3 linked regions of the Homo sapiens genome follow. The protein of the gene in region 1 purifies or fractionates together with the protein of each later gene. This does not show direct contact. Each region holds a gene or a part of one and is shown in the gene's direction. Other genes may lie near its edges.

The links. Proteins that work in one complex are often made in the same cells at the same time.
Region 2: the proteins of AAMP (region 1) and PTPRU purify together in Homo sapiens (affinity purification with mass spectrometry; 4 studies listed by BioGRID and IntAct, with this or other methods). This does not show direct contact.
Region 3: the proteins of AAMP (region 1) and WNK1 purify together in Homo sapiens (affinity purification with mass spectrometry; 3 studies listed by BioGRID and IntAct, with this or other methods). This does not show direct contact.

The regions. Positions count from the first base shown.
Region 1 is NC_000002.12:218,267,133-218,274,246, reverse strand, and holds the start of AAMP (angio-associated migratory cell protein), read left to right. Parts: upstream 1-4,109; 5' UTR 4,110-4,160; coding exon 4,161-4,281; intron 4,282-4,709; coding exon of another isoform or gene 4,710-4,712; coding exon 4,713-4,865; intron 4,866-6,633; coding exon 6,634-6,753; intron 6,754-7,114. Other genes in the region: probable thioesterase PNKD isoform 1 precursor, read right to left, coding at 2,698-2,866, 3,645-3,711. UniProt on the Homo sapiens protein: Plays a role in angiogenesis and cell migration. In smooth muscle cell migration, may act through the RhoA pathway.
Region 2 is NC_000001.11:29,232,432-29,239,528, forward strand, and holds the start of PTPRU (receptor-type tyrosine-protein phosphatase U isoform 1 precursor), read left to right. Parts: upstream 1-4,090; 5' UTR 4,091-4,213; coding exon 4,214-4,286; intron 4,287-7,097.
Region 3 is NC_000012.12:895,564-902,585, forward strand, and holds part of WNK1 (serine/threonine-protein kinase WNK1), read left to right. Parts: intron 1-507; coding exon 508-1,169; intron 1,170-1,915; coding exon 1,916-2,118; intron 2,119-4,912; coding exon 4,913-5,107; intron 5,108-7,022. UniProt on the Homo sapiens protein: Serine/threonine-protein kinase component of the WNK1-SPAK/OSR1 kinase cascade, which acts as a key regulator of blood pressure and regulatory volume increase by promoting ion influx.

The DNA.
Region 1 (7,114 bases):
CAAAGGGATACAACTATAAATGTAATAAAGTTTATGTCTAGAAGTTAAAACCCTGTATGGCTCCAGGAGTATGTGTGGCTCTGCCCAAAGTATCCACTTCTTCCTTCTGCATTCTGGCTTGGGCTGTCCCACCTTTTCCAAGGTAATCAAATACACTTTACTGCAGCAGTTTCCGGGGACGGATGCAATAGACTAGTGAAGGCTCAGGAGTTGGGTGGGGAAAGGGAGAGCTCAACCCTATCACACTGGATCACTGGATATGGAAGAGACCTCTTGGCTGTAGTGCTTGACCTTTTCTGCACCATGGACCCTTTCCAAAAGCTCATGAGAGCTAACTCTCTTCCTCAAAGAGCTGTATGTATACCTACAGTTTTGCAGATGGAGGAGGGGATGGACTGCAGGTTCAGTCCATGTCAACTCCAGTCCCATCTTACAAAATGAGGAAACTGGGCCTGGTGCGGTGGCTCACACCTGTAACTCCAGCACTTTGGGAGGCCGAGGGCGGTGGGGGGGAATCACCTGAGGTCAGGAGTTTGAGACCAGCCAGACCAAACATGGTGAAACCCCATCTCTACTAAAAGTACAAAAAAAAAAAAAAATTAACTGGGAGTGGCGGTGAGTGCCTGTAATCCCAGCTACTCTGGAGGCTGAAGCAGGAGAATCACTTGAACCCAGAAGGTGGAGGTTGCAGTGAGCTGAGATCATGCCATTGTACTCCAGCCTGGGCAACAAGAGTGAAACTCTGTCTCAAAAAAAAAAAAAAAAAATAAGTAAAAAAAAATCCAAAAAAAAAAAAAAAACACAAAAAGTAACTGGGCATGGTGGCACTCACCTGGGGTCCCAGCTACTCAGGAGGCTGAGGTAGGAGGATCACTTGAGCCCAGGAGGTGGAGGTTGCAGTGAGCTGACGATCACAACACTGCACTCCAGCCTGGGTAACAGAGCGAGACTCCGTCTCAAAAAACAAAAAACAAAAAACAAAACAAATGAGGAAACTGAGGCCCAGAGTCGAGTCATTTGGACTCAGTAAAGAGCAGTGCTTTTTTTTGCCTCCACACCCTGAATACCTTCTTTGATTCTCTTTATTGTTTCAAGGCTGAGCGGGACCCCACCCTCCTGGCCGGCAGCTCTGAGGGCTTGGTCCCGAGGGCCCGGGGCCTAGGCTGGTTGCACTTAAGTCTCTGGGTTTGCCCCACCATCCAGCTGGGAACACTGAGCTCTGTGAGAGGGAGCACACATGAGTAACCAGCCCCACCCTCTGCCCCTCCCATCCCAAGGGACTCACAAACCCAGACCTGGTTCCTTTCTACTAAACACTCAATAACTTTATTTGCCTTTGGCTGGCTCCTTGGTGTGGGGCAGGGTAGGGTTTGGCAACAGCCTGGGCTTCATGCGCCCTCTGGTGGACCTCAGAGGCACGAACTGGAATCTGGGCCAAACCTGAGGACTTAACAGTCAATAGCCTAGGAGGGTCGCAGCGCTCCTCAGGTCTGCACCCCAGACCCAACATCAGGGGACGGGGCACTCTGGGAGGAAGCCCTGAACCTCTGGCTCTCATACTCGCCCGTGTTGGACAACCGCATGTTCTGCCGAGCCTTCATCTGCTTCACACGGTCCTTGTCCACTTCCCGCTTGGTGAGGATGAAGAGGAGGATACCACAAGGGAAGCCGATGGCCCTACGGGTGGGGAGATGTGCACGGGGTTTGGGGAGGGGCCAAGCCTGAGCCAGAGGAGCTGGGGGGAGTCATTCTAGCTTCATCAGTTGCATGAATGCTGCAATACCTCTTATAGTCTATTCATCCTCTGTGCTGGCTGCTGGAGGGACCCACACAAATCAGATCCTGTCACTTCCCTGCTTAAAACCCCGTAACTCCATCACTTCCTGGCCAAGTCCAAACATGGCACAAAAGGCCCAGTGTGGCTGGGTCTCTGCCTGCCTCTTTCCTCCTCCCGCCTAGAGCCTGATCCTCAGCACGAGCCCTGCATTCCTGCAACAGCACCTGTGCAGGATTTTCCAGGCAGCCCTGACGCTTTCCCTCTCTGAGACTTGGCCAAGGTACCCTCCCAGTTTTCCCCTCTTAAGCTAAGTAACCACTGCTTGGGAGGCACTTTGGTATGGGGGAAAGAGCATGGAGTCACAGACTAGGTGAGAATCCTAGCTCAGTCTCAGTTCCTTCCTCTGTGAAATGGGGATGTAATACTTATCTCAAACACTAAAACATTACATGGCAAAGTACTGGCACACCTCACATGCAGAAAAAAATGTTGATTTCTTCCTCCTTTCTCTTTAATATTGGTCAATAATATGTATTAAGGTCAGAGTCAGAGCCCAATCACAATGTTCATAACGCCTTCTGAGTACTACTATACAACTAGTACAAGCTCACATGATCTCAACGAACTACTTACTTAAACTTGGGTCTCACTCCAAGCTCCCAAAAGGGAGGATGAGGCCAGGGACCCAAGTCTGAATCAGATCAACTCAGCTTACTCCACAGTAAACCCACTGTCTTCTCAATTCCACATACTTTCCCACCTCCACTGCCCCACCCCTCTGAGATTCCAATCGAACCCAACAATTCTGTTCCCACAACTTTGGATTCAGCTCGCCACCTGAAACTTGGAGAAGTTTCTAAGTCCTGCCCTCCCCTACAAGCCACGCCCCGTTGGTGGGCAAAGGGGTGGTTAAAACTCACCAGGCCAGTCCCACAGCTTTCATGGGGTTCTTGCCCCTCTTTCTGGGAATGTATTCCAGCTCCGGGGATAGGGGTTCAGGTTCCTCCTTGCCCTCTGGGGAGCTGTGGCTTTGCAGGGCCCGGGTCCTGTTATGAGAAGCCTTGTTAGCTGTGGCTCCTGCGAGAATCCCTGTGGATGGAGGTAAGGAAGGTCAGTAAGAAGAGATGAGAAGAAAGCAAGCGGGGAGGTGGGGGGCAGTAAGGGCTTGGGAGGAGCGGCTGAGATCTGGGGAAGGGGAGTGACTGCAGTCTGAAGTAAGAAGTGCCAAGGAGAATCCAAAGGGAAATGGGAAAATCGCCACCGAGGTGGCACCTTTGGAAGCCACTTCCACGTCACTGCGGGCTCATCACCCTGGTGCCAGGACGAAAAGCTTCGCTGTTCTTCCTCAGACGACAGCATGGGAAGGACTGCAGTGGGACTCACATAAGACGTATGAAGGAAATCCGGGAAAAGGTTTTGAAACTGCAAATGTTAGCACTGGAAGGGACCTTAAAGATAGTCTACTCCATCCCTTGCACTGTACGGAAGAGGAAACTGAAGCCCTGAGAGAAAAACTGCTTTGCCCAAGGTCAAACTGCTAATTATCCGGGGCTGGAACTCAAACCTCCAGAAGCCCGGGGCTCTTTCCTCTGCACTGCGGTGAGTGTGAAACACCTGGAGCGCGGGAGTCCAACAGGCTTCCTAGGAGCTCCCTCTTGCAGCAAGACCCCGGAGGTGTCGAGCAACCCGAAGGCGGGGGGATGCACTGGGTGACCTCTAAAGAGCATCTCTGCACCCCCAGACTCTAAGATCTTGCAGAAAAGTGTGGGGAGGAACCAAGAGCCCTGACCTCCTGCTATCGTCGGGCTGGACGTGAAAGAAAAGGGATCTTCTGCAGTCCTGCCCTCCCCGGGGTCCCTCTCCTTACCCCGGAGGACGCGGGCATTTCTCGCCCCCCGGCCCTTCAGCGCCGTAGCAGCTACCACCGCCGCCATGTTCAGATCCCACCCCCGCTTCACCGCGCTCCCCGCCGGGAATTGTAGTTTGCGTAAGGGGCCTCCCCCGCTCCTTCCGTCCTGCCTACAGACCAGAAACTACATCTCCCAGAAGCCCGCAGAGCGGACCCAGGAGAACTACTCTTCCCAGGAGACCCCGGAGGCGCGCGCGCTCGCTTGTTTCCCTCCAGTTGGGGGCGGAGTCAGGTGGGGCGGAGTTTGGGTTCTCTCCGCCACGCCCCGGCCCCATCTTCCAATGCCGCTCTGTGATTGGTGAGGCGGCCAGCCAACCTTCGTAGCTATTGGCCGAACGGCCGTCGCTCTTCCTGCTGGGGAGTCGCCTACGCCTACTTCCTGCCGGGAGGAGGGGCTCGAGTTCCGCGTCGTCGCGCAGAGCTGACTCTGGGAGGCGTTTGGGCCCAGAGAAGTGGATCCGCCGCTTGCGCCGCATGGAGTCCGAATCGGAAAGCGGGGCTGCTGCTGACACCCCCCCACTGGAGACCCTAAGCTTCCATGGTGATGAAGAGATTATCGAGGTGGTAGAACTTGATCCCGGTCCGCCGGACCCAGGTGAGAACTGCCGCTCCTCAGGCCATGGGACAGGAGACGCTCACCCCTGGCCTCTGACTCCTGCTTTTCCCCGCTCCCCTCCACACCCGACTGGTCATTCCTACCGATATCCCTCTTCCCCTCCTCCCCCACTCCCACCCTCACACTTAGTTCTCAGGCCTGGCTGGGGTGGGGGTTCCCTGACGCCTCCTCTGGCCCTTCCCCTCACACACCCCCTTCCCATCATCCCCTTGGCCCTCCCTTACCGCACGGTCTCTGGCCAGCCGTGGCCTCCCGTCCTGTGTCCCGCGCGCCCCCGCGGACCCCGGTGTGTCTGACTCCACCTTCCCTTCTCGCCACATGACCCGCCCCAGCCTCAGGCCTCCTCATGCTTCTCTCCGTACCTCTTACCGCCTCCCGAGCCCCATCTTCTAACCCTCTCCCCAAAGCAGATGACCTGGCCCAGGAGATGGAAGATGTGGACTTTGAGGAAGAAGAGGAGGAAGAGGGCAACGAAGAGGGCTGGGTTCTAGAACCCCAGGAAGGGGTGGTCGGCAGCATGGAGGGCCCCGACGATAGCGAGGTCACCTTTGCATTGCACTCAGGTAGGTCTTTGAGGCGATCCACCTCAAATCAGTTTAGGTGGGCGTGTAAGCATTAAACATCAGCCATGGACAGAACGTTATGGGGGACACAGAGATGGGCAAGATGCTGGCCTTGCGCTGGAGGAGCCCACAGGTGGGAAAGTGTGGCAGAATGGATGATTGCTTGGCTTCTGGCATCAGTCGAGACACCCTCTACTTTGCCAGTTAACCTTGATTAACCTCTTAGTTTTCTTTTAAAAAGTTATCTTTGGCCGGGCGTGGTGGCTCACTCCTGAAATCCCAGCACTTTAGGAGGCTGAGGCAGGTGGATCACTTGAGGTCAGGAGTTCGAGACCAGCCTGGCCAACATGGCAAAACCCAGTCTCTACTAAAAATACAAAAATTTGGCTGGGCATGGTGGCTCACGCCTGTAATCCCAGCACTTTAGGAGGCCCAGGCAGGCGGATCACAAGGTCGGGAGTTCCAGACCAGCCTGGCCAATATGGTGAAACCCCGTCTCTACTAAAAATACAAAAATTAGCTGGGCGTGGTAGCGGGCGCCTGTAGTCCCAGCTCCTCGGGAGGTTGAGGCAGGAGAATTGCTTGAACCCGGGAGGCGGAGGTTGCAGTGGACCAAGACTGCGCCATTGCACTCCAGCCTGGGCAACAGAATGAGAGTCTGTCTCCAAAAAAAAAAAAAAAAAAAAAGTTATCTTTGATAAAAGTTAATAAAAGTAGTGAGTATAAAATTAGAGATAATTGGCCAGGTGCGGTGGCTCATGCCTGTAATCACAGCACTTTGGAAGGCCAAGGCGGGTGGATCACCTGAGGTCGGGAGTTCAAGACCAGCCTGGCCGACATGGTGAAACCTCATCTCTACTAAAAATAAAAAAAAAATTAGCTGGGTGTGGTGGCATGTGCCTGTAATCCCAGCTACTCCGGAGGCTGAGGAAGGAGAATCACTTGAACCTGGGAGGCAGAGGTTGCATTGAGCTGAGATTGTGCCACTGCGCTTCGGCCTGGGCGACAGAGCAAGATTCCATCTCAAAAAAATAAAATAAAATGAGAGATAATTATATCTTTTTGAGCATATTTTATATAACTTTCTCAAGTGCTAGTTCTTAGTAAGAAACTGTTGCCAGGCACGGTGGCTCATGCCTGTAATCCCAGCACTTTGGGAGGCCGAGGCGGGTGGATCAGAAGGTTAGGAGTTCGAGACCAGCCTGACCAACATGATGAAACCCCATCTCTACTAAAAATACAAAAATTAGCTGGTTGTGGTGGCGGGCGCCTGTAATCCCAGCTACTCAGGGGGCTGAGGCAGGAGAATTGCTTGAACCTGGGAGGTGGAGGTTGCAGTGAGCTGAGATTGTGCCACTGCACTCCAGCCTGGGCGACAGAGCAAGACTCTGTCTCAAAAAACAAAAAACAAAAAACAAAAAACCCTTAACGTGATGCTCTCCTCGCTCTGTACCCAACCCCGGTGGCATCCCATGCTGACAACTGTAAGCCCTGCACCTGTCCCCACCTCTTGTCCATGGCATTGGTGTTGGGTGGTGACGGGAGTCACACAGTGAGGGGATCTACTCTGGCAAATAGGGAGCTTGGCAAATATGGGAAGGATCTAACAACCCAATTCTTGAAACTTAGAAGAACTTGGATGTACCTGTGTTTTCCAGGAGGAAAGACACGCTTTGGGTGAAAGGGGGTGGGTTTCCTGAAGATTGTGAAGGACAGAGCCCTAGGTGGGAGCTCTGTCCCCTTACCCATGGAATATCTCTTGGGACAGCATCTGTGTTTTGTGTGAGCCTGGACCCCAAGACCAATACCTTGGCAGTGACCGGGGGTGAAGATGACAAAGCCTTCGTATGGCGGCTCAGCGATGGGGAGCTGCTCTTTGAGTGTGCAGGTGAGGGGGCTGGGGTAGAGGCCTGGGAGAGGTCATATTCTTTTGGGAGATCTTAGGAGGCTGACCTGCAGAGGTTGTGCATCCAACAGCCACTTAGTGACATCTCTTTTGTGCCAGCTCTGTGCTGGGCCCCAGGGACACGGGGCGAATACTAGTGTGTTTTGGGCACAGAGGCAGGAGGCACTAATTGGCCAAGGGAATCCAGGAAAGGCCAGAGAAGGCCACATTGGTATAGGAGCAGGCGGGCAGAGGTGTAGAGTGGACAGAAGGGGGAAGGCATAGGAGGCTGGGACTTGGTCTGGTTGAGTGAGGGCCAGCAGTGTCTCCCAGCAGACATGGGAGTATTGGTTCCTAGAGTGGT
Region 2 (7,097 bases), on another chromosome or scaffold:
ACTAAATGTCTGTACTTGTTTTTATTATTAGAGAAAGTTGGTGTCCCATGGTGGGGGAAAGGCTTGGCCCCACATTTATGTGCCAGCACACACACGATGACCAGTCCTGCTTACCCTTTTCCCCAGTGACACATAGGCTTACTTGAACTGGGAAGTACAACGTAACCTTCTGTTGTAAGACTCCCTAGGTGACATTGAGATGTCGACATTCTCTTCTTCACCAAATTGGCTCCTCTGAATTTCTGGGGAGCCCAGTCAGGAAGCCTGAAGAATCATCCAGCAAGTCCTCCTCCTTGGGGCTGGACTTTAGCCTCCTGTGCATCCCAATAGCCCTCACTTTTAGTCTAGGCCATCTGGGTTCTTGCAGGGGCATAGTTTGAGAACTACTGACTGAGGGGTTCAAGTCCAATTTCCTGGACTTGCATTCAAGATTCTTTGCACTCTGACTCCCACACTGCATTTCCAGCTTCATCTTCTCCTGTTGGACCGTGCATAGCCTGTGATCCAGCTGCATCTGATACCCGTCTTCCCCAGTGTGTCTTGTGCCTTTATTCAGGCCACTCCTTCTGCCTGAAATGCTGTTCCCTGCCTCGGAAACTCCAGGTTCAGATGTCATTTCTTTGATGTTTCAAAACTCCCTAGGTCATCTGCTGCTGCCTTTGTGTTTTCCCTGGAGCTGTGTTATGGCCTTTAGTACATCGTCTCTTATTTATTCCCCTCCAGGCAAGACTGGAGCCATGTTTGGTTTATCTCCATAACACCAGCACCCGATATGAGCCTGGCACAGGGTAGGTGTCATAAATATTCCATGAGTTGCAGGTAATTGAATTTCCTCATGGCCTAGAACGGTCTGTGGTGCCATCTCCTTTTCCCTAGATTTGGGCTGGTCACTCCAGGCCAGGAATTTCCTTCTTCCTTCTTCTCTCAAGGATTATAGAAGTCTGTGGTCTTTTTTTTTTTTTTTTTTTTTTTTTGAGACAGAGTTTTGCTCGTTGCCCAGGCTGGAGTGCAATGGCGCGATCTTGGCTCACTGCAACCTCCGCCTCCCAGGTTCAAGCAATTCTCCTGCCTCAGCCTCCTGAGTAGCTGGGATTACAGGTGCCCGCAACTACGTCTGGCTAATTTTTGTATTTTTTTTTTTTTTAGTAGAGACAGGGTTTCACCATGTTAGTCAGGCTGGTCTCAAACTCCTGACCTCGCCTCTGCCTCCCAAAATGCTGGGATTACAGGTGTGAACCACTGTGCCCGGCTGAAGTTTGTGGTCTTTTAAAAGTAAAGCAGAAAGTCCTCTTCTCATCTGTCTACCTGTTGCTTGTGTTCTCTTTCTCCCTCCATTATAGTCTCTGCCATCTTCCCCTGCACAAAGGGCAAAGGGATGTGGAATCAGTCAGATCTGGGTTCAAATCTAGGGCCCGCCGTCTATTTACTAGCTGTGTCACCTTAGGCAAGTGTCATATGCTCTCTGAACCTCAGTTTCCACACCCGTAAAATGGGATCACTGGTAAAACTCCTATTTTGAGGCTCTCTCAAGAGCCCTCTGCAAACAGCACCCTTGGTTGTTTCTTCTGTTCACTGGTTTTCTCTCCTTGAGTTTCCTTTTCTGGGTGGGCCTCTCTGGCTCCTCTCTGCTCCAGCGTCTCTGTATCTTAGTTTCTTCCCTAAGGTTTCCCCTTGGTTTCTTCTTGCTTCTGCCTCCCTCTCCCTATTTAATTATCTGTGTCTAATTCTTGCCTGCTGTGTCTTTTGGTCCCTTTCCTAACTCAGTGTGGAGCTCATCAGCTCTCACAAGAGAGGAGACCAAGAGCCCAGGAACTCTCAACCCAGCGATACCTCCTCCAGCCCCAGGGCAGCTTCAAGGTGTGTCCATCTCAGCATGAAGCCAGCTAGGAGGGGCAGGGCACAGGGAGGGCCTACATATACCTTGAACTCCTACGCTTTGTTCAGTGTCACTGCCCAGTGGTCAGACCCATCTGCCCATGGCTTTCCCTACTTCAGCAGTCTTTATAGCTGGAGCTGTAAAAAAAAAAAAACAAAAAAAAAAAAACCCAGAGATCAGAACTTATTACTCCTTATTACTCCTCTGCTTAATTACTCCACTTCAGTGGCCTCCCATTAATTACTCTTAGGGTTGAACCTCAAGCCCCTTCCTTGCTCATAGTTTCTTGCCTGACCTACAGACCCTGCTGACTTGTCTAGCTGCACCTGGCTCCCTTCTGCCCCTGACTCACTCCATGCCAGCTGCCCGGCTTCCTTGCAGCTGCTTGTACCCACCAGCTCCTGCCTTTGCACAGGCTGTCCCCTCTGACTGCAATGTTCCTCTCCACTGATTTGCATGAGGTTGGCTCCTTCTCATACTTCAGGTCTCAGTTCAAATGTCACCATGTCACTTCTATAGCAAAGCCCTCTTGGACCACTTATCTAAAGGAGATGCCCCTTCCCTATGTTCTTTATCATTATACTCCCTCGTTTCCTTTAGCTTGCATATCTTAGATGGTAATGATATATTTATGTACATGTTTGCTGTTGGGCTCTCCTAATAGAATGTAAGATTCATGAAGGCTAGGACCATTTCCCTTTCATTCATTCCATCCAGTCAGTATTTATTGAGCATCAATTACGTGCCAGAGGCCGGGCGCGGTGGCTCACGCCTGTAATCCCTGCACATTGGGAGACTGAGGCAGGTGGATCACCTGAGGTCAGGAGTTCCAGACCAGCCTGGCCAACATGGTGAAACCCTGTCTCTACTAAAAATACGAAAATTAGCCGGGCGTGGTGGTGGGCACCTGTAATCCCAGTTACTTGGGAGGCTGAGCCAGGAGAATTGTTGGAGCCTGGGAGGCAGAGGTTGCAATGAGCCAAGACTGCGCCATTGCACTCCAGCCTGGGCAACAAGAGTGAAACTCCATCTTGAAATAAAATAAAATAAAATAAAATAATAAAAACATGCCATATACTGGGCACGGAAATACAAGATGAGTCTTTTCCCAAGGGAGCTCATTTCTAGAGGTGGAGACAGATAATGAACTCATCATATAGCCCGCACTCTATTTGAAATTGCAACAATTCCCCTTCCCTTCCCTGTCCCCCCACCACCCCCAAATTTCCTGGTGTATGAGACAGTGATAAAGGACGTACACCAGAGGGTTTGCTTTTTTGTTTTTGTTTTTTTGGTTGTTTACTGTTCTTGTCTTCCCACTGGAATGTAAGGTCCATGAGAGTAGGGAATTTTTGTCTGTTTTATATCTCTACCCTGGCCTATAGTAATTGTTGAATAAATGAATAGACCCCAATAAATATTTGTTGAATGAATAGGTGTCCAGATGGGAGGAAGGTCTCAGCCCCTATTCAATTCAAACCAAACAACTTTGATTCAAATCTCGGTGCTGTCAAATACTGTTGCATAACAGTATTTATGCAGTATAATTATTGCATACCTAATATATGATGATTAAATGAGTCCATGTGGGTTAAACACATAGAAGGTACCTGGTCTTACATAGTAATGAGCAACGAGTTTGCAGATCATAGTGCGAGGGCTCGTTCTGGGTAGAGGCCCAAATACATTTAACCTGTGTAGCCAGAAGGTAGAGTAGGACCAGTGAGGGCTAGTGAGGGAGGTAGACTTGCACGTCATGAAATGAAAAACTTTCTAAAAGCCGGCGTTTCCAAAGCCCCAACAACCGCTCTTGGCCAGGTGATGAGCGCCCTGTTCCTGGAGGTATGTAGAACACGCATTTGAAGGCGCCAAGGTACAAGGGATTCAGGCATCGGATGGGACAGAGGCCGGGTGTCCCTGGGTCACCGTCCCTGAGAGCGCTGTACGGGAGCTAGGCGTGGGCCATGAGCGTGCTCGCCTGGCAGTGTTGGTGCCCGGTCCGTGGAGACGTCCGTGGGCGTCCAGACCCAGCCGCGGGGCCTCATGGCGGGGAGGATGCGGGAGCGGGGGAGGGGCGCGCCAGGGCTAGCGGGCGGCCGGACCCGCTGCAGCACCCGCCGTGGCCAGCAGGGAGCGCCGCGAGACCGCCGAACCCGCGGCCGGGCCTGACGTCAGCGCCCCGCTTGCTCCGGCTCGCGCTCTGGACTCGGCGCCAGTCCCGCTCCGCGCCGCGCCGCTCCGCTCCGGCTCGGGCTCCGGCTCGCCTCGGGCTGGGCTCGGGCTCCGGGGGCGGCGTCCCCCGCGCCGGGCCCCGGGACGGGCGGCGACGCTCCAACCATGGCCCGTGCCCAGGCGCTCGTGCTGGCACTCACCTTCCAGCTCTGCGCGCCGGAGACCGAGACTCCGGCAGGTAAGCGCGCGGCGGCCGGACCGAGCCTGCCCCGCCGAGCCTCGGGGCCCGTGGCGTAGCTCGGAAGAAAGTGTGAGTGTTGAGTGACCGGGCGTTACGAGCGTGCTCCCTGTGTGTGTCTGAGCGTAGGATGGGCGATTGTGTGCCCGGGGTGTTGCGTGACTGCGAATGTTGTGTGTCCGTGAGTTCTGTGCGCAAGAAAAGGTGATGTGTGTCGGCGAGTATGTTGGGGGTGAATGTTGTGTGCATCGAGGCATTGGGTGTGCGCTGAGTGTCTTGTGGGTCTGCCAGTGTGTAGTGTTTGTGTGGCCAAGTGGGTTGTGTGTGCATCTGAGTTTGGTTGTGTTGCGGGAGTTGTATCTGCTAATGTGTTGCATTTGTTTGCATTTTGTATGCCTGGCCGGGAGTGCTGTTTGTTTTGTGTCTGCGAGTGGGTTGTGTGTTTGTGTTATGCCTGTGGCCAAGGGTGCTCTCTGGATCCCGCCTGAGTGTGGATCCGGGAACGCGTGTGTGGCGTGTGTGCTTTTGAGATCCGTGTACATGTGTGAAGGCGTGGGAACGGGTCCGGAACGTGTGTGTCCGTGCGCTGTGTACGTGTGGGGAGTGTCTAGGGTATGTGGTGTGTGCTGCCGGGGGCCGCGTGGGTCCGAGTGAATGCCAAGTGTGCCGGGAATGCGTGTGTGGGAGCGAGTCTGGAACGGATGTGAGTGTGTGCGAATGTGTCCGTGTGTGCTGGCTGCGCGTCCAGGAATGTTGCGAGTGTGGAGCGCGCCTGGGCCGCGGCTGCGAGTGTGCCCTGGTCCCGGGGCCGCCCGAGGGGGCGGTGGCAGGACGTGTGTGCGCGCGTGTGCGTGTGCGCGTGTGTGGCGCGCTGGGCCGGAACAAGTTGTCGCGGCGGCGCCCCCTGGGCTGCCCGGGTCGGGCAGGGCCCGAGGCTCAGGGGAGGACCGGGCCCCGCGGCCGCCGCCTCGGGCATGTCGGACTGTTTGTTGTTTCGCAAGTTCCGCGCGGCGCTGGCGGGCGGCTGATCCGAGGCGGCGCCGGGGCTGCGGGGCGCCCGGGCCAGCGGGCCCCAGCGAGGGGCCGGCGGGCGGGCAGGGGAGGGCCGGACCGGCGGGCGCTCCTGCGGTGGCCGGGCCGCGGCTGCGCCCCGGGCGGCCGGGCGGGGGCTGTCCCCGGGCTGGGCTGCGACGTCCGGGCGCGGGCAGGGCCTGGCTCGCCGCCGGGGGACGGCGCCCCCTCCCTTGGCGCGCAGGACGCGCGGGGGACGCCCGGGCCTCCCGGGACACTCCCTTGGTGGAGCCTGCAACTTTGTGCGGCCTCCCGGCCGGCCGGGACCGCCAGGTGTGTGCTTGAGTGTGAGCGTGAGTGTGAGCGTGTGGCTCCGCGCTTGTCTGCTGTGTGGTCGCGTTCTCCGGGTGTGTTTCGGAGTCTGGTGTCTTTGGTGTGCGTGCGCGTGTGTGTGTGCGCGCAGCTGAATGTATGTATACGGAGCCTGTGTTTGTGTGTCCGTGTGCTCGTCGGAGTGTGGACGGTGTGTCGGATGTGTGTGCGTGCGCGTGTTCCACATCCCACCCTGAGGCCTGGGATCCTAGACCGCGGCCCCTTCCCGCGGAGTTTCGGGGCCCTGCTCCGGGTGACCTCCCCCGCCCTCGCCACCGGCGGGGCTGCTCCGCGGGCTCCGGGTAGCCGGGAGACGCCCGGGGCGGGATCCGAGCCGAGACACGTGCTGGAGCGGAGCCGCTTCCTCACGGTCGCCAGCCGCAGACAACTGACCTCCCCGGCATCGCGTTCGCGGCCCTGCTGCTGGCTCCGGTGTCTCGGGCCGGAACTCCTGTGGCTCCAGCGTTCGCGCCGGCCACTGGCCAGCGCTTGGGCCTCGCCCTGCAGCTCCGGGGCCATAGGGCACAGCTTTAGCTTTGACCTCCCCGTTCCCGAAAGGACGCCCAAGGCGACCTCCCACCCCATCCTCCCCAACTTCTCCCCCATGTCCTGCGGCAACTTTGCCTCCCTCTCCCACCGTGAAATCAAACCCGCGGGGTTCTGTATGCGCCCCATCCCCGCTCCTACCACCATCGCTTTGATTTCAAGAACACTCACAAGCCCCAAGCCCTGCCAGCAGGAGGACTGTCAGGAACTGAAGTTTGGGAGTGAGGCCTAGAGCAGGTTACTCCCATTCTTGATGCCTCAGTTTCCTCTTCTGCCTCATAGCCATCATGATAATGGTGTATGGCACTTTTGGTAGATACCAAGTACCTTGTAAAGTAAGGCTCTGTCTGTGAGTGCCAGGGAACAAAAAATGGATTTGAGAGTTGTTGCAAAGCCCCAGACAGAGGCTGTGATTTAAAGCTGGGGTATTAGGTGTCAAATTCTGCCTCTGCTACTTGCTATTCATGTGATGTCTGGCAAATCACCTCACTTGTAAAGTTCCTGGCCCCCTTTGTTATTCTTAGAGATGAACTCAGAAGCCCAAGTAGAATAGATGTGATACCCCTTGTCCCCAGTCTGGACAGAGTCAGCCCAGCTCCCTGAATGGCTCCGGAGCTTCCGGGTAGGGGCGGTGTGTGATGCCTTCTCAGCCTTGCAAACCTGGTAGTTATTTATTCTGCTGTGTTCTTGCTATTTTGTCCTTTTGGTCGCAGGAGTTGTGGACGGCAGGAATGAGGGAGTGGCTGCCCAGTGGTTTCAGGTTGGGCAATAAAGGCTTGTCTGGGCATCCCTCCCTTTTCCCTGGGGCTAGGGGAGGGGACTTAGCAGGAAGCAGTGACAGTGGCCGAGGTGGGGACGCTGAGCTCCTGGACAGCCTGCTGC
Region 3 (7,022 bases), on another chromosome or scaffold:
TTCTCCTGCCTCAGCCTCCCAAGTAGCTGGGATTACAGGCACACGCTACCATGCCTGGCTAATTTTTGTATTTTTAGTAGAGACAGGGTTTCACCACGTTGGCCAGGCTGATCTGAAACTCCTGACCTCAAGTGATCCACCTGCTTCAGCCTCCCAAAATGGTGGGCTTACAGGCATGAGCCACTATGCCTGGCCCTGACCTTTTGTTATGTATATGTTGACTAAGACATAAATCTGAATTCTGTGTATGACATCAAATACGAAAGTAAATTATTTACTTTATAAGCGTAGCCAGCCACACAGAATCTGCATCTCAGTACCCATGTGTTCTCTATGATGGTATTCAATTTTTCTTCCTAGTCAAAAGTGGAGGCGCTATGTAAAGAGACAATCAGCCTACTCTTTGACAGGGAAATAAAGTGATTCTTTTTTTCCTTTTTTAAATTGTCTGTGATAGAAATTGGATATTGAGAACTTAAGTTTTTAATCTTTGTCCTTTTTTATCAGGTTTCTGTTGCAGCAGACGGTGCCCAGAAAGAGGGTAAAAATAAGTCAGAAGATGCAAAGTCTGTTCATTTTGAATCCAGCACCTCAGAGTCCTCAGTGCTATCAAGTAGTAGTCCAGAGAGTACCTTGGTGAAACCAGAGCCGAATGGCATAACCATCCCTGGTATCTCTTCAGATGTGCCAGAGAGTGCCCACAAAACTACTGCCTCAGAGGCAAAGTCAGACACTGGGCAGCCTACCAAGGTTGGACGTTTTCAGGTGACAACTACAGCAAACAAAGTGGGTCGTTTCTCTGTATCAAAAACTGAGGACAAGATCACTGACACAAAGAAAGAAGGACCAGTGGCATCTCCTCCTTTTATGGATTTGGAACAAGCTGTTCTTCCTGCTGTGATACCAAAGAAAGAGAAGCCTGAACTGTCAGAGCCTTCACATCTAAATGGGCCGTCTTCTGACCCGGAGGCCGCTTTTTTAAGTAGGGATGTGGATGATGGTTCCGGTAGTCCACACTCGCCCCATCAGCTGAGCTCAAAGAGCCTTCCTAGCCAGAATCTAAGTCAAAGCCTTAGTAATTCATTTAACTCCTCTTACATGAGTAGCGACAATGAGTCAGATATCGAAGATGAAGACTTAAAGTTAGAGCTGCGACGACTACGAGATAAGTAAGTATATTTTCTCTTGTGAAAGAATGTCAGATAAGGTTTTCAGACCTAGATCCCAGGGCCAAGATTAATAATATTTTTCGCCACAATATGCTAATGTCTCATTTCTTTTAAAGAGACAGTGCCACAGAAGCCCCACCCCATACCTCCCCACCACACACACACACACACACACACACACACACACACACACACACACACACACACGATTCCCAACCACTGACTCACAGGCACAGGCAGCTTCTCTTGCACTCATACAGACCCATAGCATTTCTAGTTCTAGAACTTCTTCATTGTTACTATATTATTACTGTATTATTGTTACTGTATTGTATTATTATTTTTATTAATAGCATATTGTATCACTATTAACTGCTCTTTATTTATTAGTCCACTAAATGAATCTGGCACTGGGATGTATGATTATTTGGCACGTTTTGTTTGGCAGATTGGGTCAGAGTAGCAAATTCAGCTATTGTGTGCGTGGCCTCAAAAGTCAGGAAATGTTTTTCTCCTAAAACATTATCAACCATTTGTTGTTGGCTAGGAGCTTGTTGGAACATGGCTTGGGTAATGCAGGCCAGCAAGGTGAGTTGACAAACTAGAATCTCGTGGTAGTACATTTGGGGAAAAGGTTCATTAGTAACTACTACATACTTGAAAGCAGGTTTAGGAATATGCTGTTAATTCTTGTCTGAATGAAGAGGATTATGGTATTTTGAATTATGTTTGGTTATCTTTCACAGACATCTCAAAGAGATTCAGGACCTGCAGAGTCGCCAGAAGCATGAAATTGAATCTTTGTATACCAAACTGGGCAAGGTGCCCCCTGCTGTTATTATTCCCCCAGCTGCTCCCCTTTCAGGGAGAAGACGACGACCCACTAAAAGCAAAGGCAGCAAATCTAGTCGAAGCAGTTCCTTGGGGAATAAAAGCCCCCAGCTTTCAGGTAAAAAGCCCTGGACTAGGTCAGCCACAGCTGTCCTATCTTTTGTTTCTGTCTCCAGCTGTATGTGACCTGCTGAACATTTGTTGTTTTTGTTAAATTTCAAAGGAATTTGGCTCTCCTGATATTTTTGCTTCCTTGACTGCTGTACTTACATTTATTGTACCTCTTTTTGAGTCTATAGAAGTAGACTTAGTGAATACAATGGCTTATTCCATTGTAATCCATATTGCTATCTACTGGTAATCTTTATTTATAGTTATTCTTAAGGATAGACATTTAGCTTTGCCTGTTAACTCGTATAACTCACATTTAACCAAACTCTTGGGCAGTTGGAAGAAAATACATTATTCTCTGTTTAGTAAAACTTGGGTAGATTCTTTGTTTTAATGGATGACTTAGTCATAATTGCAACTTAGATGAATGTAATCGTCATATAGATATTTGTGTGTATGTCTAAGTGGTAACTTCTTGATTAAGGTTTTTATTTCATTTATATTGGGTTAAAGAACTTGCTAGTCATTGGTTAGGCACGGTGGCTCACGCCTGTAATCCCAGAACTTTGGGAGGCTGAGGCAGGCAGATCACGAGGTCAGGAGATCAAGACCATCCTGACTAACACGGTGAAACCCTGTCTCTACTAAAAATAAAAAAATTAGGTGGGCATGGTGGCAGGCGCCTATAGTCCCAGCTACTCAGGAGGCTGAGGCAGGAGAATGGCATGAGCCCGGGAGGCGGAGCTTGCAGTGAGCTGAGATTGCACCACTGCACTCCAGCCTCGGTGACAGAGCAAGACTCTGTCTCAAAAAAAAAAAAAAAAAGAAGAACTTGCTAGTCATTAAAATCAAAGAAATAGTTAAGTGATACTCTTTTGTAATGTAGTATATATATATATTTATTTATTTTAAGAGACAGGGCCTCACTCTGTTGCCCAGACTGGAGTGCAGTGGTGTGATCATAGCACACAACACAACAGCCTCAAACTCCTAGGCTCAGGTGGTCCTCCTACCTTAGCTTCCTGGGTAGCTGGGATTACAGGCACACACTACCATGCCCTGCTAACTTTGAATTTTTTTTTTGAGACAGAATCCCGCTCTGTTGCCCAGGCTGGAGTGCAGTGGCACGATCTCGGCTCACTGCATTCTCCGCCTCCCAGTTTCAAGTGATCCTCCTGCCTCAGCCCCGCATAGTAGCTGGGATTACAGGCACATGTCACCATGCCTGGCTAATTTTTGTATTTTTAGTAGAGATGGGGTTTCACTATGTTGGCCAGGCTGGTCTCAAACTCCTGGCTCAGGTGATCCACCCACCTTGGCCTCCCAAAGTGCTGGGATTACAGGCGTGAGCCACCGTGCCCGGCCCTGGACTATATTTTAATTGGGATAGATAGAGAGTTTCTAATCCTTTGGTGAAATTATGGTAGTGTTAACACAATTAGTTGAAAAGTAAAAGAAGGTTAAAATATGTTAAAAAGCAGTTGCAAACTTCTTAGCAGTTCCATTCTCTGGAAAGGTTCACAGATATCCAAATGTAGCACATTAGGGCCAGTTCATGCAGCCCATTAGTAGAGATGTGATTGTAAGAGAAATCAGCTAATTTCTGATCTGATCCCAATCAGATCTTTTTTGTTTTTGTTTTTGTTTTTTTGAGGCAGAGTCGGCAGTGGCTCAACCTCCAACTCCCAGGTTCAAGCAATTCTCATGCCCCAGCCTCCCAAGTAGCTGGGATTACAAGCATGTAATCCCAAACCAAATGTATAAGAACACCTGGCTAATTTTTGTATTTTTGTATTTTTAGTTGCACTATGTTGGCCAGACTGGTCTGAAACTTCTGGCCTCAGGTGATCCGCCCGCCTCAGCCTCCCAAAGTGCGGATTACAGGCATGAGCCACTATGCCCAGCTATGATCCTAATCAAATTCTAATCCTAATTTTGACATACTTTTTGAGTGGACTTGAATTCAACTGGGAACCGGGGAGCAGAGAGTCAATTTTAGGACAACCGACCTATTGAAAGCAACCTACCAAAAATAATTTTAAACACCCATTGCTCTGTAGTGACCTCCATCATTTTTGAACACCTCTTTTGTATTTGCTCTGATGCACGTTTATAGGAAAGTCTAAGCAGAGACTGCCTAGCAAACCTTTTTGTATAATGATTCAACACATTTTCTAATAGGGTAAAAAAAAAAGCAATCATGGAATTGCAGAATGGAATCTGGGTATCCACTAGGTACTCTGGTCTTCTTACGCTGCTCAGACATGTGGCCCATCTAGGTTTTCTAAAGCTAAAAAGCTCTGGAATAGTACATATGGCCCTATTACCTATGGATTCTTTTCTTTTTTTTTTTTTTTTTTTGAGTGCAGTGGCATGATGTCGGCTCACTGCAGCCTCTGCCTCTGGGTTCAAGCAATTCTCCTTCCTCAGCCTCCTGAGTAGCTGGGATTATAGGCACCCTCCACCACGCCTGGCTAATTTTTATATTTTTAGTAGAGACAGGGTTTCATCATGTTGGCCAGGCTGGTCTCGAACTCCTGACCTCAGGTGATCCGCCCACCTTGGCCTCCCAAAGTGCTGGGATATTATAGGCGTGAGCCACAACACCCAGCCTATCTATTGAGTCTTAGTGTCATTCCTCACTTCTCCCGTTAGTGAGGACTTTGTTCTTCTCATCAGTTTGTAGCTTTTGACCCATCATTCATCACTCAGTGGAACAAACCAAATGTATAAGAACAGTGCCTGATGAGTGCATGGGAAGAGCTGGACATGTTTCCTCATGCCACTTTATCTTTTGGCAGGTAACCTGTCTGGTCAGAGTGCAGCTTCAGTCTTGCACCCCCAGCAGACCCTCCACCCTCCTGGCAACATCCCAGAGTCCGGGCAGAATCAGCTGTTACAGCCCCTTAAGCCATCTCCCTCCAGTGACAACCTCTATTCAGCCTTCACCAGTGATGGTGCCATTTCAGTACCAAGCCTTTCTGCTCCAGGTCAAGGTAATAAAGCAACCATCATCGTCCAAAAACAATAAAATGGAGATGTTGCCATACCTGGGACAAAAGCCTGTTAAGGCGGGTTGGGAGACTAGCTGACCAGAACACAGCCTGTGTGTTGTACACTGAAGAATCTGGGTGAAAAGGGAAGTGGAGTGATAATGAGAATCGGTGGGCTCACTGCTCCCATTAGGTGAAATTACTTTTTTTCAAGGAATTACAGTGAAAAGTTACATCTGTGTGGCCTATATGACTTGCTCATTTGGGATTTGGAACTTAGGCTTTAATATTAGGCTGAGATTTCCTGGATGAAATTCTAAGGTGTTTTAGCAGTTTCTGAAGCTAATACATTTTCTTAGCCATTGTAGAATTTTGTTACTTTTAAGTATGGGAGTGGCATACTAAAATGAATAACCTTACAATTCAGTTTTTTATCCATAATCTACTTTCCAAATATAGCTCTGTTTATTAGTGATTGCTGAAAAAATTCCCACAGAGGAAAGAGCTTTTAGTCATATTAGAACAAGAATTGAAAAGACTTGGGCATCTGGGTGAGAAGAATGAAAAAAATATAGGTACTGGCTTATGTGCCTTTGCCACAGTTTCACAGAAATTAGAGATCAGTCTCTTCACAGGAAGAATGCACTTGATTGGTAAGGAGGGCAAACTAGCTAGCATTATTCGAACTAAGAAAAGCTTCCGCATTTTGCAGATGGGTAGAATTAAGACCTAATATTTCATCTCTTACATATCTGACCTTCCCCCCAGAAGCTTGTTCTTCTGTGTGCCATCTTAGTGCATTTCACCACTCCAGCCTCAAGTTTCTAACATCTTGTAGTTGTGTTCTGTCTCTTCTCCTCTCTCTGTTCTACCCTGTTTTTCCCCTCTCACAGGCTGTGCGAAGTTTAACTGTGCATCTGAACAGGTGACATTCAAACCTGGTGGCAGGAGGACCCGATTTCTGAGTACGCCCTGCTTGGCTCTTTGTGTGTAACACCTTTACTCCTTCCTTGTCCTTGTGTTTCTGCTGCTTGGATCTGATGTTTCACGCAGTCCATTTTCATTTGTCTCTTTTTGTATATCATCTACTCAGTGGCTTGGCTGAATTACTGTTACCCTCAGAAGTTTGGGCCCCCACATTAATTATGATAAAAAATGTCAAAATAACAAGTTATCTACAAATTTCAATGTAACTTTCTGGTAGAAGTGCTTCTTCATGGATCTGTGACAGAGAGTGGATATGGTATCTAGGCAATAGATTGCTGGGTCATTTAGAATAATGAAGACTGAACTCCACAGTCGTAGTCAGTGCTGTCTGTCTGCCCTAGCATTAGAAATGAGAGAAATCAGCCAGACACGGTGGCGTACACCTGTAATCCCAGCACTTTGGGAGGCCGAGGCGGGAAGATTGCTTGAGGCCAGGAGCTCGAGACCAACCCTGGGCAACATGGTGATACCCCATCTCTAAAAAAAAAAAAAAAGTTAGCCTGGCATGGTGGTGTGCACCTATAGTCCCAGCTGCCCAGGAGGCTGAGGCGGGAGGATTACCACCTTAAGACCAGGAGGTTGAGACTGCAGTGAGCCATGATTGCACCACTGCACCCCAGCCTGAGCGACAGAGTGAGACTCTATCTCAAAAAAAAGAAACGAAATGAAGAAAGCATTTTGACCAATGATGCTCTTAGATCCTGGCAGCAGGTAAAAATTATGTACCATTTTTTTCCATTCTTTGTCAGAGTAGATTGAAATCTTATTTTTCTTCTCTATTAAGCCTAAGCAGCTACCAGTTGAAAAGATGCTAGGATCTCTTCATTGGATCATTCCACCACTACTGTCCTCTAACCCCATAAAATCAAAAGCGGTTTTTAGTTTGGTTATTCTGATAAAGCACTTAGTCTAATAAAGATCAAAGCCCAGC